Homo sapiens: one gene and its partners. The protein of the gene in region 2 purifies or fractionates together with the protein of the main gene of each other region. This does not show direct contact. Each region holds a gene or a part of one and is shown on either strand. Other genes may lie near its edges.

Evidence for each region.
Region 1: the proteins of ANKHD1 (region 2) and TNPO1 fractionate together in Homo sapiens (co-fractionation; one large-scale study listed by BioGRID). This does not show direct contact.
Region 3: the proteins of ANKHD1 (region 2) and TSNAX fractionate together in Homo sapiens (co-fractionation; one large-scale study listed by BioGRID). This does not show direct contact.
Region 4: the proteins of ANKHD1 (region 2) and FNBP1 fractionate together in Homo sapiens (co-fractionation; one large-scale study listed by BioGRID). This does not show direct contact.

What each region holds. Positions count from the first base shown.
Region 1 is NC_000005.10:72,823,019-72,826,660, forward strand, and holds part of TNPO1 (transportin-1), read left to right. Parts: intron 1-3,642. UniProt on the Homo sapiens protein: Functions in nuclear protein import as nuclear transport receptor. Serves as receptor for nuclear localization signals (NLS) in cargo substrates.
Region 2 is NC_000005.10:140,404,791-140,408,432, reverse strand, and holds part of ANKHD1 (ankyrin repeat and KH domain-containing protein 1), read right to left. Parts: intron 1-3,642. UniProt on the Homo sapiens protein: May play a role as a scaffolding protein that may be associated with the abnormal phenotype of leukemia cells. Isoform 2 may possess an antiapoptotic effect and protect cells during normal cell survival through its regulation of caspases.
Region 3 is NC_000001.11:231,531,527-231,535,168, forward strand, and holds part of TSNAX (translin-associated protein X), read left to right. Parts: intron 1-3,642.
Region 4 is NC_000009.12:129,921,190-129,924,831, forward strand, and holds part of FNBP1 (formin-binding protein 1), read right to left. Parts: intron 2,838-3,642; coding exon 2,655-2,837; intron 1-2,654. UniProt on the Homo sapiens protein: May act as a link between RND2 signaling and regulation of the actin cytoskeleton. Required to coordinate membrane tubulation with reorganization of the actin cytoskeleton during the late stage of clathrin-mediated endocytosis.

The DNA.
Region 1 (3,642 bases), about 68 Mb from region 2:
CTGTACTTTGTGAAATTAACTATCCATCATCTGCAAAATCCAGTCTGAACCATTCTTAGATGTTGCTTTCACTTTCTTGCTGTAATGGAAACCGGACTCTCTTCCACTGTGCAGTTGTGGCTGTTTTTGTTTGTTTGCTCCGTAACTTTCCTCCCACTGTTTCTAGAGGTGGGAAAGATATCTGTCATGAGTCTTCTTACTTCTTTCAGACTATGCTTCCTCCTTTCTCCCTATAATCTTCAGTTTTGAATTATGTCATAAAGGCCCACTGTCCCACTCTCCAGTCTTTATATTGAAATTGATAAGAATGTACATAACTGATCCACCCAAACCCTGGCCTCTCACTTCCTAGACCTCTCTTCCAGTGCTCTTCCCATCTATGCTATATCAGCCACTCATTCCACAGTGATACCCTCGTGCACTGTCAATAACTGCAGTCCCTCCATAGTTGCCATTTCATGTGTTCTGCTCTGTTACCGCTTCTTCCTATTTTTGCAGCTCACTCCTAGTGCCTCAGCCCTAACCATCTTCTGACCCCAATGGAATCTCCAACCCATTGATCCTATTACTGCTCCCCTGCCCCTTACCCTCTTGATGTTTTCACTCCCTTTTATGTGGAATTTACTCATCTAAATTTCATGATTAATCAGTTTAATTACTTCTTTGGATCCCTTTCCTTGCTCTTTGCTTGTTTGGCAAAACCAGAGCTCTAGTTAAAACAAACTCTGGGGTTTTTTTTGCACTTGCCCCTATGTAACTGAGCATGGCCAGAAAAAAAACCACACAACCACACATGGCCACAAACCTTAAGTGGGTCTGTAATGCTGCCTGATGGTTGTACTGTATTTTCCTAGTCTGCTTACTCTTCCACTCCTCTAAATGACTATTTCATATCTTATTTTCCCCAAACCTTCTATATCTCTTTTCCCATCCTCACCTTCAGCTCATGACCTTGCTTCCCACTTTGCTGAGAAAATTGAAGTAATCAGAACTTCCATAGATTGCCACCACTCCACATACCTCTGGCACTCTATTTATGAAAGGGTCTGCGCAGCATCTGCTCAGTACATGGCTGTCTTCCTGCCTGTTACCTTAGATTAACTGTTCATATTCTTGTCTGCCTTTGTACTAGGCCCCATTCTCTCTCATCTGCTCAAGGACTTTGCTTCAGGTTCTCTTCTTCCACATCATCAATTTTGTTCTTTTTATTGAATCATTTCTATCAGCAAACAGATATGCTATTATTTCTCCCCTCTTAGGAAAAAATCTTGTCCCACTTCACCACATTACCCCAATTTTTTGTTTCCTTTGGGAGCAGTATTTCTCAAAATAGTTGTCTGTACTTGCTATTGCCAAGTTCTCTCCTCTAGTACTCTGTTAAACCCACTCTAGTGAGGTCTTTGTCTGCACCACTCCCACAGAAACAGCTCCTCTGGTTCTTCAGTAGCCCCCATATTGTTAAATGCCCTGTGTTATTGATTCTCATCCTATGTGACCTGTCAGCAGCATTTGACACAGCTGTTTGCTTCCCTTAGCCTTGAAACCATTTCTTCTTTGCCTTCGAGGACGTCACACGTTCCTGGTTATCTGCTGTCTCAGTGCTGGTCCTTGTAATTCTCCTTTTCCTTTATTTTCACTGACCTCTTAATGTTGGAGAGCCCCAAGTCTTAATTGTTTGTTTATTTGTTTCTATCTATGCTCACTTTATTGGTAATCTCATTTAGTCTCATGGCTTGAAATACCATGTAAATATCAACAATACCCAAATTTAGATCTTTAGCCCCCTCCTCAATTCCAGTCTTACATGTGCAACTACCTATTCAACATCTCCCCTAAATGTTTAATAATAGACATCAAAGTCAGCATATCCAAAACTAAACTCCTAAACTTTCTCCCCAATGCCTGCTTTACCCACAGACTCTCCCATTTCTGTCAGTGGCAACTCCGTCCTCCTGTAGCTCAGACCAAAATCTTGGCCTTATTTTTTTACTTCACTTTTTCTTTTACTCTTCAGATCTGTTCTTTCAGGACAATCTGTTTTCTGTATCGTCAAAATACATCGAAAATCCTATCATGCCTCACTGCTTCCTCCACTGCCACCACCCTTGTCCAAGCCACTACCATCACATCTTGTTGGATTACTGAAATAGGTTACTACCTGGTCTGCCCCTTCTGCCCTATCCCCTTCCAACAGTATTTTCTCAATACAGTAGCCAGAATAAACCTTTCGCAAATTAAGACAGTCCCTGTCACTTCTCCTGCAATGGCTCCTGTTACGATCTGAATGTATGTGTCCTCCCAAACTGTTGAAATCCTAACTCCCAAGGTATTAGGAAATGGGAGTGGAGTCCTCATGAATAGGATTGGTGCCCTTAAAAAGTCCTAGAGGCCAGGTGCGGTGGCTTATGTCCGTAATCCCAGCACTTTGGGAGGCTGAGGTGGGCGGATCATGAGGTCAGGAGATCGAGACCATCCTGGCTAAAACCGTGAAACCCTGTCTCTACTAAAAATACAAAAAATTAGCCGGGCGTGGTGGCACGTGCCTGTAGTCCCAGCTACTCGGGAGGCTGAGGCAGGAGAATCGCTTGAACCCAGGAGGCGGAAGTTGCAGTGAGCTGAGGTCACGCCACTGCACTCCAGCCTGGGTGACAGGGTGAGACTCTGTCTCAAAACAAAACAAAACTCTAGAGAGATCCCTTGCCCTTTGTCTCTTGAGGACACAGCAAGAAGTCTGTGAGCTAGAAAGCAGCCCTCACCAGATACTGAATATGCCTTGCTCTTGGACTTCCCATCCTACAGAATGGTAAGCAATCAATTTCTGTCATTTATAAGCTATCTCATTTATGGTATTTTGTTATAGCAACCCGAATGGACTAAGACATTCCCTTTCATTCACTCAGAGAAAAGCTGGTCCTGTGAGGCTCTACATGATCTGCCCAATCCACTCCACTTTCTCCTTACCTTCCTGACCTCATTTACTGTTACCACTGTTCTCCCCTTACTCACTGGCCTGCTTGCTATGTCTGTCCTGTTCCTACTTTAGGACTCTTGCTGGCTCCACTCTCTGAAATGTACTTCTTCCACATATCTGCTTGGCTCAATGGACTTACCTCCCAGTCTTTGCTCAGATCTTACCATCTATGAATACCCTGTTTAATACTATATTCTATCCTGCCCTTCCCCACCCACTCTTATCCTGGACTCCTTTTTATTTTTTGCATAGCACATACAACCTTCTAACATACTATATTAGGGGTCAGCAAGCCACAGCTCCATGAGCTTCTGCCCTGTTTTTGTACATCCTATAAGCAAAAGAATGGTTTTTACATTTTTAAACGGTTATGAAACAAAGCAAAAAATACGTGACATATATATGTGGCCTGCAAAGCCTAAAATATTTACTCTCTGTCCCTTTTCAAAAAAAGTTTACACTATGTATTTTATTCTGTTTATTGTCCTCCTCCTCCTGCAAGAATACAAGCTCCAAGAGGGCAAGATCTTTGTTTTATTTTTTGCTGTATCTGCAAGATACAGATACAGAGCCTAGAATGTAGTAGACACTTAGTAAGTATTTGTTAAATGAATTGTTCGTGATGGTGCAAAATGGTAATTATGTTAAATGTTCACCAATAGACCTATATA
Region 2 (3,642 bases):
AAGCTACACTTTTAAATTTGATATGCCTTTAAAGTATGTGTATATGAACATATATACATATATACATAGAAAGATAGGCCTAGAAAATTTACTGAATGAAAAATTTTAATATTGGTTACCTTGAAGGGTAGAATTTGAAGAATTAATGGGGGTGGGAAGAAGCACTTTTACTTTTCCCCTTATACCTACTATCTATATTGTTGAGTTTTTCAACAAGTAACTATTTTGTAATAATTTTATTATTTTCTAATTTTTTGAGATGGAGTCTTGCTCTGTTACCCAGACTGGAGTGCACTGGTATGATCTTGGCTGACTGCAGCCTCCGTCTCCCGGGTTCAAGAGATTCTCCTGCCTCAGCCTCCCAAGTGGCTAGGATTACAGGCGCCTGCCACCATACCCAGCTAATTTTTGTATTTTTAGTAGAGACAGGCTTTCACCATGTTGGCCAGGCTGGTCTCAAACTCCTGACCTCAGATGATCCATCCGCTTTGGCCTCCCAAAGTGGTGGGATTACAGGCGTGAGCCACCGCGCCCGGCCACTTTTGTAATAATTTTAAAAGAGGGCCGTCACACACACACATACACACACAAACACACATATACACACACATTCATTCTTACGACAAAAATTGAAAACCATGTCTCACACAATCTTTTCTTTAGAAACTGTATTTTTATTTCGATTTGCTAAAAAAATTAAAAGACCACAATTCTAAAATTAAAATTTAAAAATTGGTTTTTCGGTCAGGCACAGTGGCTTACAACTTGTAATCTCTGCATTTTTGGAGGCCCAGGCAGAAGGATCCCTTGAGGCCAGGAGTTCAAGACTAGCCTGGGCAACATTTTTTTTTTTTTAAATCAGGTGGAGTGGTGGAGTACACCTCTAGTTAGACCTAGCTCTTTGGGAGGCTGAGGCAGTAGGATTGCTTGAGCCCAGGAATTCGAGGTTGCAGTGAACTATGATCATGCCACTGCATTCCAGCCTGGGTGACAGAGCAAAAGCCCATCTCTAAAAATAAATAAATAAATAAAAATAGGCTGGGTGTGGTGGCTCACACCTGTAATCCTAATCTCAAAATAAATAAATAAAAATTTAAAATAAAAACCATTTTTTAAAGTGGTTTTTTTTTTTTTTTTGGAGATGGAGTCTCACTCTGTCACCCAGGCTGGAGTGCAGTGACGCGATCTCAGCTCACTGCGACTTCTGCCTCCCAGGTTCAAGCAATTCTCCTGCCTCAGCCTCCTGAGTAGGCTGAGATTGCAGGTGCGTGCCACCACGCCCACCTAATTTTTGTTTTTTAGTAGAGATGGGGTTTCACCATGTTGGTCTGGCTGGTCTCAAACTCCTGATCTTGTGACCCACCCACCTCGGCCTCCCAAAGTGCTGGGATTACAGGCGTTAGCCACCGCACCAGGCCTAAAGTGGTTTTTAAGAAATTTTTAACCTAACTTCTATTCTGAACATGGATACATTTCTTAATAGGATTCAATGCAGTGCTAGCTCTTCTAATCAAGGGCTTCGATAGCTAAGAAACATGCTAAGAATGCCTGAAGAAATACGAAGCAGGTATTTACCCCAATGTTTAAAATAACAAAAGGGCCAGGTGGGTGACTCACGGCTGTAATCCCAGCACTTTGGGAGACCTAGGCGAGCAGATCACCTGAGGTCAGGAGTTCGAGACCAGCCTGGCCAATATGGTGAAACCCCCATTTCTGCTAAAGATAGAAAAATTAGCCAGGCATGGTGGCACGCACTTGTAATCTCACTACTGAGGCAGGAGAATCACTTGAATGCAGGAAGCAGAGGTTGCAGTGAGCTAAGATCGTGCCAGCCTGGGCGACAAGACTCCATCTCAAAAAAAAAAAAAAAATGTACTGAAAGATGTGAGTCCATTCCTCTAACCAAAAGGTCTTTTGCTTGGCCAGCAAGAAAGAGTAGCTTGTTTTTTCTCAGCTCTTGGCTCTGATATTAAATATAAAGAGGTCCTTAGAGGGTCTACTCCTCTGTACACAAAATGTAGAAGACCAACTAATTCTAGAGCAAAAATACTAGGGCTCCACATTTCTTATTTCTCACCTAATCCTGCCCCATTAGAGCAACAAGACAAACTTCACTCCCAAACTACACACCAATTCATCATCTTTTTGGATGTCTAGGTACTTGTTTCTAAAATAATTTATTTTTTTTTTTTTTTGAGACAGAGTCTCTCTCTGTCACCCTGCCTGGAGGGCAGTGGCGTGATCTCGGCTCACTGCAACCTCTGCCTCCTGGGTTCAAGCGATTCTCCTCCCTCAGCCTCCTGAGTAACTCAGATTACAGGCGCCCTCCACCAAGCCCGGCTAATTTTTTGTTTTAATAGAGACAGAATTTTGCCATGTTGGCCAGGCTGGTCTCTAACTCCTGACCTCAGCTGATCCACCCGCCTTGGCCTCCCAAAGTGCTGTGATTACAGGCGTGAGCCACCATGCCCGGTGGTTATAAATATTTAGGAAAAATGAAGGCCAGGCATGGTGGCTCACACCTGTAATCCCAACACTTTGGGAGACCAAGGTGGGAGAATCACTTGAGGCCAGAAGTTTGAGACCAGCCTGGCCAACGTGACAAAACGCTGTCTCTACCAAAAATATAAAAATTACCTGGGAGTGGTGGTGGATATCTGTAATCCCAGCTACTCAGGAGGGTGAGACAGAAGAATCGCTTGAACCCAGGAGGCGGAGGTTGCAGTGAGCCAAGATCGTGCCACTGCACTCCAGCCTGGGTGACAGAATGAGACCCTGTCTCAAAAAAATAAATAAAAATAAACAAAATATTTAGGAAAGATGAGACGGAGGATTTTAGTATTATTCATCAAATGCCAATTACATGAGTATTTTTTGAAGAACACTGTTACCTTTTCACACTGAAAATTCAAAGGCAATAATAATAAAAGAAGACAGCTCATCTTGTCAGACAGAAAAAGAAAAGGGAAAATTTTTGCTTGGCCAAAACAGGTCATTTTATTCACAAAGGCACAGACTATACTCTACCACACATACTATAAAGACTAGATACTCCAAGAATTTCCTCTCTATGTGATATGGGAGAAACAGGACCCAAAAAAAATTTCCTGCTTACACAGATTAAGAAAGCATCTATACACCCACTAAGCATCATCTTAGATTAGGCTAAAGTGGGTATCCTAGAAACTTCCATTCCAAAAATGAGGTCTACATGTACTCTTAACCTGTAAATCCTTTTAGGCACAGAAAACATAAGTAAACAGGAGAATATGGGGCTCTTCTAACATTAGGCACCACTAAGTGGGTGTAGGAATCACCAACACATGACTTCTACAATAAGCTTCAAAAATACAAAAGGCATGGATTCTGCCCATAGCTTTAATTACATGGTATGGAGACTCCAAAGACCATTACACATACACACACACACACACACACACACACACACACACACACACACACACAGACATGCACAGTCAGAAAGAGAGAGAGACAAATTTATGACTTTGGGGGCAAACTAGTGCTCTACCTGTGAAGAAATTTAAGACTATTACTTATAAAAAAGCAAATGGTTGCCAGGCACAGTAGCGTGTGCCTATAGTCCCAGCTACTTAGGAGGCTGAGGTAGGAGGACCACCCGAG
Region 3 (3,642 bases), on a different chromosome or scaffold from region 2:
ATCTAACTTTGTGTTCATAGTGTCTGACTTACAGTGGTCATTAATATAGCCATAATAAATAATGAATACATATTGATTATCTTAACCCTGGCCTAGTTATTATCTCAGTAATAAAAGACTAGATATATTTAGATCCATGTCAGCTACTAATTTAGTTAATAGTTTAAGTTCTTGTTTTTTCAGTTCGTGCAATATACATGATTGGGTGTTTCCTATAGGCCAGGCAGCTTGCGGGGCTGTGGAGTGAAAAGACTTGGGAAATAAAGGCGTTATTAAGAGAGTTAAGTGGTTTAAGGGTATTTCAAGGTACAGAGCTTGATAAATTCAGGAAGTTTATACTTGAAATTTGCTAAGTAAGTAGATCTTAAATGTTTTTACCACAATTAGCTGGGCATGACAGCATGCGCCTGTAGTATGCTTATAGTCCTGGCTACTCCGGAGGGGCTGGGGCAGGAGGACTGCTTCAACTCAGAAGTTTGAGGCTGCAGTGAGCTGTGATTGGGCCACTGCACTCCAGGCTGGGCAACAGAGACCCTGACTCAAAAAGGAAAAAAAAAAAACTAACTGAGGTGATGGATACGTTAATTAGCTTAATAGTGGTAATAACACACACACACACACACACACACACACACACACACACACACACACACACACACAGTTTTGGTTTTTTTTTTTTTTTGGAGACAACGCCTCACCCTGGCCCAGGCTGAAGTGTGCAGTGGCGTGATCTTGGCTCACTGCAAGCGTAGCCTCTTGGGCTCAAGTGATCCTCCCACCTCAACCTCCCAAGTAGCTGGGACTACAGGCATGTGCCACCACACGTGGCTAGTTTTTAGATTTTTTTGTAGAGGCAGGGTCTCACTGTGTTGCCCCTGCTGGTCTCGAACTCCTGGGCTCAAGTGATCTGTCCCCCTTGGCCTCCCAAAGTGCTGGGGTTACAGGCATAATCAATCATGCCTGGCCTTATAATTTTTAATTGTCAGTTATACCCCAGTAAAGGTGGAAAAGCAGGAAGACAACAGGGAAAAAAATTTTAATAAACTTGAAAAAAAAGGTCCAAGTTTCTTTTTTTGGAGGTGTTTATATTATTAATATATGTGGTTAAAGTAATTTTTAAAACTTTATGTAACTCTTTGTTACGTGTCATTTTGTGATAATCTCTTGTTTACTAAGTTCATTTTTTACAACTTGTACAGTATTCCCATTGTGAGACTAAGTAGTAAAACCCAGTTAATACATACCTATATTTAAAGAGGAAAATATTTTAGTTGAGCCTTTTTGATTTCCATGTAATTTAGAAATAAGATGATTTTATTCTCTTCATTTTCATAAACTGAATAATTATTGCTTTCTTACATATAGAGACAGTACTTTTAGGTACAGACTGTTTTTGCTTTCTAGCCATTTGTATTCTAAGAAAATTAAAATCATTTCCCTTTTTTTTCCTTTCATAAGATTTACCAAGTGTTTTGGAAAAGTTTGACATAAAAGCTTACAGGTCTGTCAGAGGAGATTTTAAAAGGGATTTCATGGGAAGTCTTTTTTTTTTTTTTTTGAGATGGACTCTCACTCTGTCACCCAGACTGGCGTGCAGTGGTGCAGTCTCAGCTCACTGCAACCTCCGCCTCCCAGGTTCAAGCAATTCTCCTGCCTCCGCCTCCCAGGTTCAAGCAATTCTCCTGCCTCAGCCTCCCAGGTAGCTGGGACGACAGGCCTGTGCCACCATGCCCGGCTAATTTTTGTATTTTTAGTAGACATGGGGTTTCACTATATATTGGCTAGGCTGGTTTTGAACTCTTGACCTCAAGTGATCCACCCACCTCAGCCTCCCAAAGAGCTGGGATTATAGGCGTGAGCCATCGCGCCCGGCCCGGAAAGTCTTTAATGAGAAGCACTAGCTTCCAGACAAAATTTCATGAGATAGTATAGTTTGTTCAACTCAAACCCAGGATCTTTAATGTCCGAGCAACCACTTTGCTATCAAAGTTGGAGTTAATTGCATTAAAAGGAGTTATCAGATCAATATTCTACTGTTGTTGAATCATCTGAGTAAAGAAATACTGTCTCTTTTTAAATTTATTTTGAGGTAATCTCAAATTTATTTAAAAAACTAGAAGACTTAATGCAGTTGGAAAAATAGTACAGAGAATTTCTGTATAGACTTGACTTAGATTGACCAATTTTTAACATTTTGCCACTTTTGCTTTATTATTCTCTCTATATATGTAAATTTATATGTCTAACCATATATTCTGAACCATTTAAGAACAAGTTGCATGCATCATACCCCTTTACTTGTTAATACTTCAGAATATATTTCCTAGGAAGAAGACTATTCTGTTGTATAACTCTAGTATTGTTAACTAATTTCAGGAGATTTAACACTGACATAATACTTTAATCTACAGTGCATATTTTGACAATTGTCTCAATAAGGTTCCTTCCAGCTTTTTTTCTCTCTAGTCCAGTAATCTAGAACAGGATCACATATTACATTGTAATGTCTCTTTTTAGTTTTCTGTGATCTGGAACAGTTTCCCAGTTTTGTCTTTCTTGACAATGATATTGATTGAAGAATATAGGTCTTATTTAATAGAATATTCCTCAACTTAGATTTGATTAATATTTTCTCATGGTTAGATTCAGGTTATGCATCCCTGGCTGGAATACTACATAAATGATGGTTTGTTGATTTGTTCTTTTTGGGGGTATTGCAAGGGACCAAGTAATGTAAGGCTTCATAAAGAGTTTGGAGTTTGTTAAACGTAATGCAGAGTCATTAGAGAGTCTTAAAAACTAAAGTATATTTTAGAAATGTCACTCTGGCAGCTACAGAAAGGCAAGGTGGGCAGACGCAGACCAGACAAGAGACTATTTTGTAGTTCCGGTACAGTAAGGTATTTGTAAGGTAACTTAGAGGTAATAAAGTAATAAGGTAACTTAGATTTGGATGACAGTAATGAAGCTGATGAGACAGATTCAACAGTGCTTTATAAAATTAACTTATATTACTATTATGAGTAATTTATACTTTATTCCAACTGCATTAGCATACATTTGAAAAAGTAATAGCAGCAAAATAATAAGACATTATTCCATGTTAGGGGCAGTGCTTATTGGGCACATGGATTTGCAGTTCCTTTTCAACAATTTCTTAGTTCCCAGGAGATTGCATACCCTTAGTACGTTTATCTCAAACTACAACAGATGCTCTTATCCAGTATGTTATACTGCTTATGATTTCAACAAGCAGTTCAGTCAGGAAATGTTTTGTGAACACCTGCTGCTAGACATGGATCTATGCTCTGATACAGTGGTGAAACAAGTGCATTTACAAATAAATAATATAATTTTAGCTAGCGAAGGATAAATGTAAATCAGTGAAGCGTGGTAAGGAATGGAGAGTAAGGGAGGAGGGAGGCACGTGATTCTTAAGCAGTCCTTGAGCAGAATGATATCTGAATGATGAAAGTGAAATGTGAGATGATGAGAGGCAGTAGCAAAAATAGAGGCATCAAGAAAGGTACAAGCTTAGAGAATCAGGACTAGCAAGAAGACATAGTCTGCCTGGCTCATGAGCTAAGGGCAGGACATGAGGCAGTTTAATGTGTTAGAGGCATGAATTTACTATGAAAAGAT
Region 4 (3,642 bases), on a different chromosome or scaffold from region 2:
GAGGAAATATTGTTTTGTCCCCTATTTTTAAAAAGCATTGATAATAAACTTGTTATCAATTATGAATTTACATTCTTTACTTTTTTTTTTTTTGGAGAAAGGGTCTCACTCTGTTGCCCTGGCTGGGCTCCAGCAATCCTCTCATCCCAGCCTCCGCTAGGACTACAGGCACATGCCACCATGCCTGGCTATTTTTTCATGGGTTTTTTTTTTTTCTTTTTTGAGACAGAGTCTTGCTCTGTCGTCCAGGCTGGAGTGCAATAGCGTGATCTTGGCTCACTGCAACCTCCACTTCCCAGGTCCAAGCGATTCTCCTGCCTCAGTTTCCCGAGTAGCTGGGATTACAGGCACCCGCCTGTAATTAGCCGGACATTAACCATGCCCGGCTAATTTTTGTATTTTTAGTACAGACGGGGTTTCACCATGTTGGTCAGGCTGGTCTCGAACTCCTGACCTCAGGTGATCCGCCCTCCTCGGCCTCCCAAAGTGCTGGGATTACGGGCATGAGCCACTGTGCCAGGCCTCTTTTTTACACAGAGTTGTTTTTGTGGAAATACGATTGTCAGGTTAACAATGACTACTGTTATTCTTTTACTAGTAACCAGCTGTTGATTCCAAGTCTAAGAAGGACATCTCTCCTCTAGTTAATTAGTTGTAGTTTAGAATCTTTTCCCAGGCCAATGTGTCAGTTGACACTCAAGAAAGGATGGCATCCACCTCTGGCTTTGGGGCACTACCAGGTACTATTTGGAAAGAAGTAACCCAACCGTCAGTTGACTGGAGAGTCCAGGAGAAGGGAAAAGTAAAACTTATGTTTGTACAAGAAAGCATTCCACTACAACTGTATTGCAACTCCCACAGGGTAGGATTTAAAAAAAAAAAAAAGGAGAAAACCTTACTGGATATGTTAACGCTGCTGGGATTACAGGCGTGGGCCACTGGGCCCAGTCTAAAGATCTGTTTACTCATTATATTCATTATAAAAGATATTTTGGGAAGGCTTAGACTAGACTGGCCATTGAGAATGATTTGGGAATCTACACATTGCTTTATGCCAATCTTTCTCTGTAAACGAAACTGGTATCTACATTGGATGGCTGCATCAATTCCATTATCTCTATGATGTAAGCGCACATCAATCTTAATGAGGACAGCGGACTTCAATCTTAATAACAACCACTTACGAGTCAATATAGTAGTTTCTCCCTGAATGTGGATGTCACAGAATCTCAGACTCTGTAATCAGACTCCCCGGATCTAAATCCCGGCTCTGTATCTTCCCACCTTCACCTTTTTATGCCTCAATTTCCTTACAGTAAAATAAGGAAATATGAGTACTACCTGGGCTTCATAGGGTGGCTGGAAAAAAGTAAATGAGCACACAGAACAGAGCTTTGCACACAATAAGTGCTCAGTAAGTGTCAGCTGCTTTTATTGTTTCATCCTTTAAAGAGAAATTCTGCATCAGGCCCCTTCCAATCAACAGATATTTTATCAACATCTTATATAATCTCACTAAAATAGCGAATGAAACCACTGTGACTTATGACTCTTCTCCTTTCGACCCTGAGGCATAGCTCAGGCAAGTATCTTCATTACACTCACATTGCTTCAGTAGTTATTAAGGCAATATTTTCTGACTTACACAGTGACTTCCAATTCCTCATCTCATAGGTTGCTAGTTTTATGTTTTTATTATTTATTATTTTTTTTTAGAGATGGGGTTTGACTATGTTGTACTGGCTGGTCTTGAACTCCTGAGCTCAAGTAATCTTCCTGCCTCGGCCTTCCAAAGTGCCAGGATTACAGGCATGAGACACTGCGCTTGTCCTATTAATTTTTATATATTTTTTTAAGAGATGGGGGTCTCACTATGGTGTCCAAGCTGGTTTTGAACTCCTGAGCTCAAGCAATCCTCCTGCCTTGGCCTCCTAAAGTGCTAGGATTACAGATGTGAACTATCACGCCCAGTCTCAGGTCGCTAGTTTTAGAAATGAAATCTAAGTGGTTTTTTTTGGTAAAATTAAGGTAGAAAATGCATGACTTGGATGCTTTAAAGAGGAAGAGGGGTAAAGTCCTTCCAAAATGTACTAGAAACGAAAAGAAAAAGGCCGGGCGCAGTGGCTCACACCTGTAATCCCAGCACTTTGTAAGGCCGAGGCGGGCGGATCACAAGGTCAAGAGATCGAGACCATCCTGGCCAACATGATGAAATGCTGTCTCTACTAAAAATATAAAAAGTAGCTGGGCGTGGTGGCATATGCCTGTAATCACAGCTAATCAGGAGGCCGAGGCAGGAGAATCGCTTAAACCCGGGAGGTGGAGGTTGCAGGGAGCCGAGATCACGCCACTGCACTCCAGCCTGGTGACAGAGCGAGACTCTGTCTGGAAAAAAAAAAAAAAGAAAGAAACAAATAGAAAGAACTCTGGGCTGTCTGGTTTTCTCCTTTCTTCCAACCACCATGCTTCCTTCTTTCTTTCTTCCTCTTTCTGGCTTTTCTTTCTAGCTATAATGGTTTTTGTTTTTTTTTTTTTAACTTTTTTATATGTTATGGGAAAACACAATGGATTCATTCACAAACAAAATTAGTTATGCAGAACCAAACATGCAACCAAAGCACGCCAGAGAGACAGGATTCCGGAGCAGAACTTACCCCACGCTTTAGGCTCCTGAAGCAGTGGATTTTGGGTTTGGAGGTCATGAACTCGTTGAAGCGATGGGAGAGGGGTTCCTTTTGCTGCTTGGGAGACTGGGGGCCGTTGGGAACAGCAGAGGGTGAGGCAGAGGCAGGAGGGGGAGGGGGAGGCTGATGGGGGGATGTTAAAAGGGACATAAGCTACATGTAAGAGATGGAGCCGTGACAGAGTAAAAATCAGAAACAAGAAGACACAAAACAAAAATAAGCATCAAATAATATTTGAAATCCAACGCAAGTAAAACACAAACAATTAAATTTTAGGCCATGGTCCAAAAGAAAACATGTAGGAGGTGGTTAAATGAAGAATATGATGAGAGTTGGGAGGTTTAGTAAGTAATGCGACAGAAGAGCAAGAAATATCTGACAAGAAGCTCGTGCAGACTTTCCCATGCAAACTATAGCTCTAGTTAGTTACTCTAAACCAGCTTAAGCCAGAGGGTAAATATTTCTACATTACCTAAACTAACATAGCTTGATGGGAGAAAATGAAAGACCTTCAATGCTAAGGTTGTGGAAACAGCAGTCTGTTTAAATTAATAAATAGTAAGTCATTCTAAAGTTAAAGCAGTAATGCTGCCTTGATCATATTCTACGTCCCCAGGTTAATGCTGTCATGCACCTATGTATCGCACTATGAAAAGAAAATGAAAAATGTTCATGGGTACACATGTTAACATGAATTCAAAACCAAGTTATTAACATGGTAACGATTTCCAGTAGATGTGCGGATAAAGTGTTACAGGAATGTCCCACTACATCCTCTCTCCCAGCCAAGGTAACCAGCAGTCTAGGAGAGGAAGGAGGGAAAGGCATGAGGCGAAACGGTGGAGAGGTCAGTACTCTGTTAGTGTGGGAGTCACGGTACGAGGATAATGCATCTGAAATAAGACACAGGGCCATGGCAAAGATACCACCACCAAAAAGAAATACTGTCTCAACATAA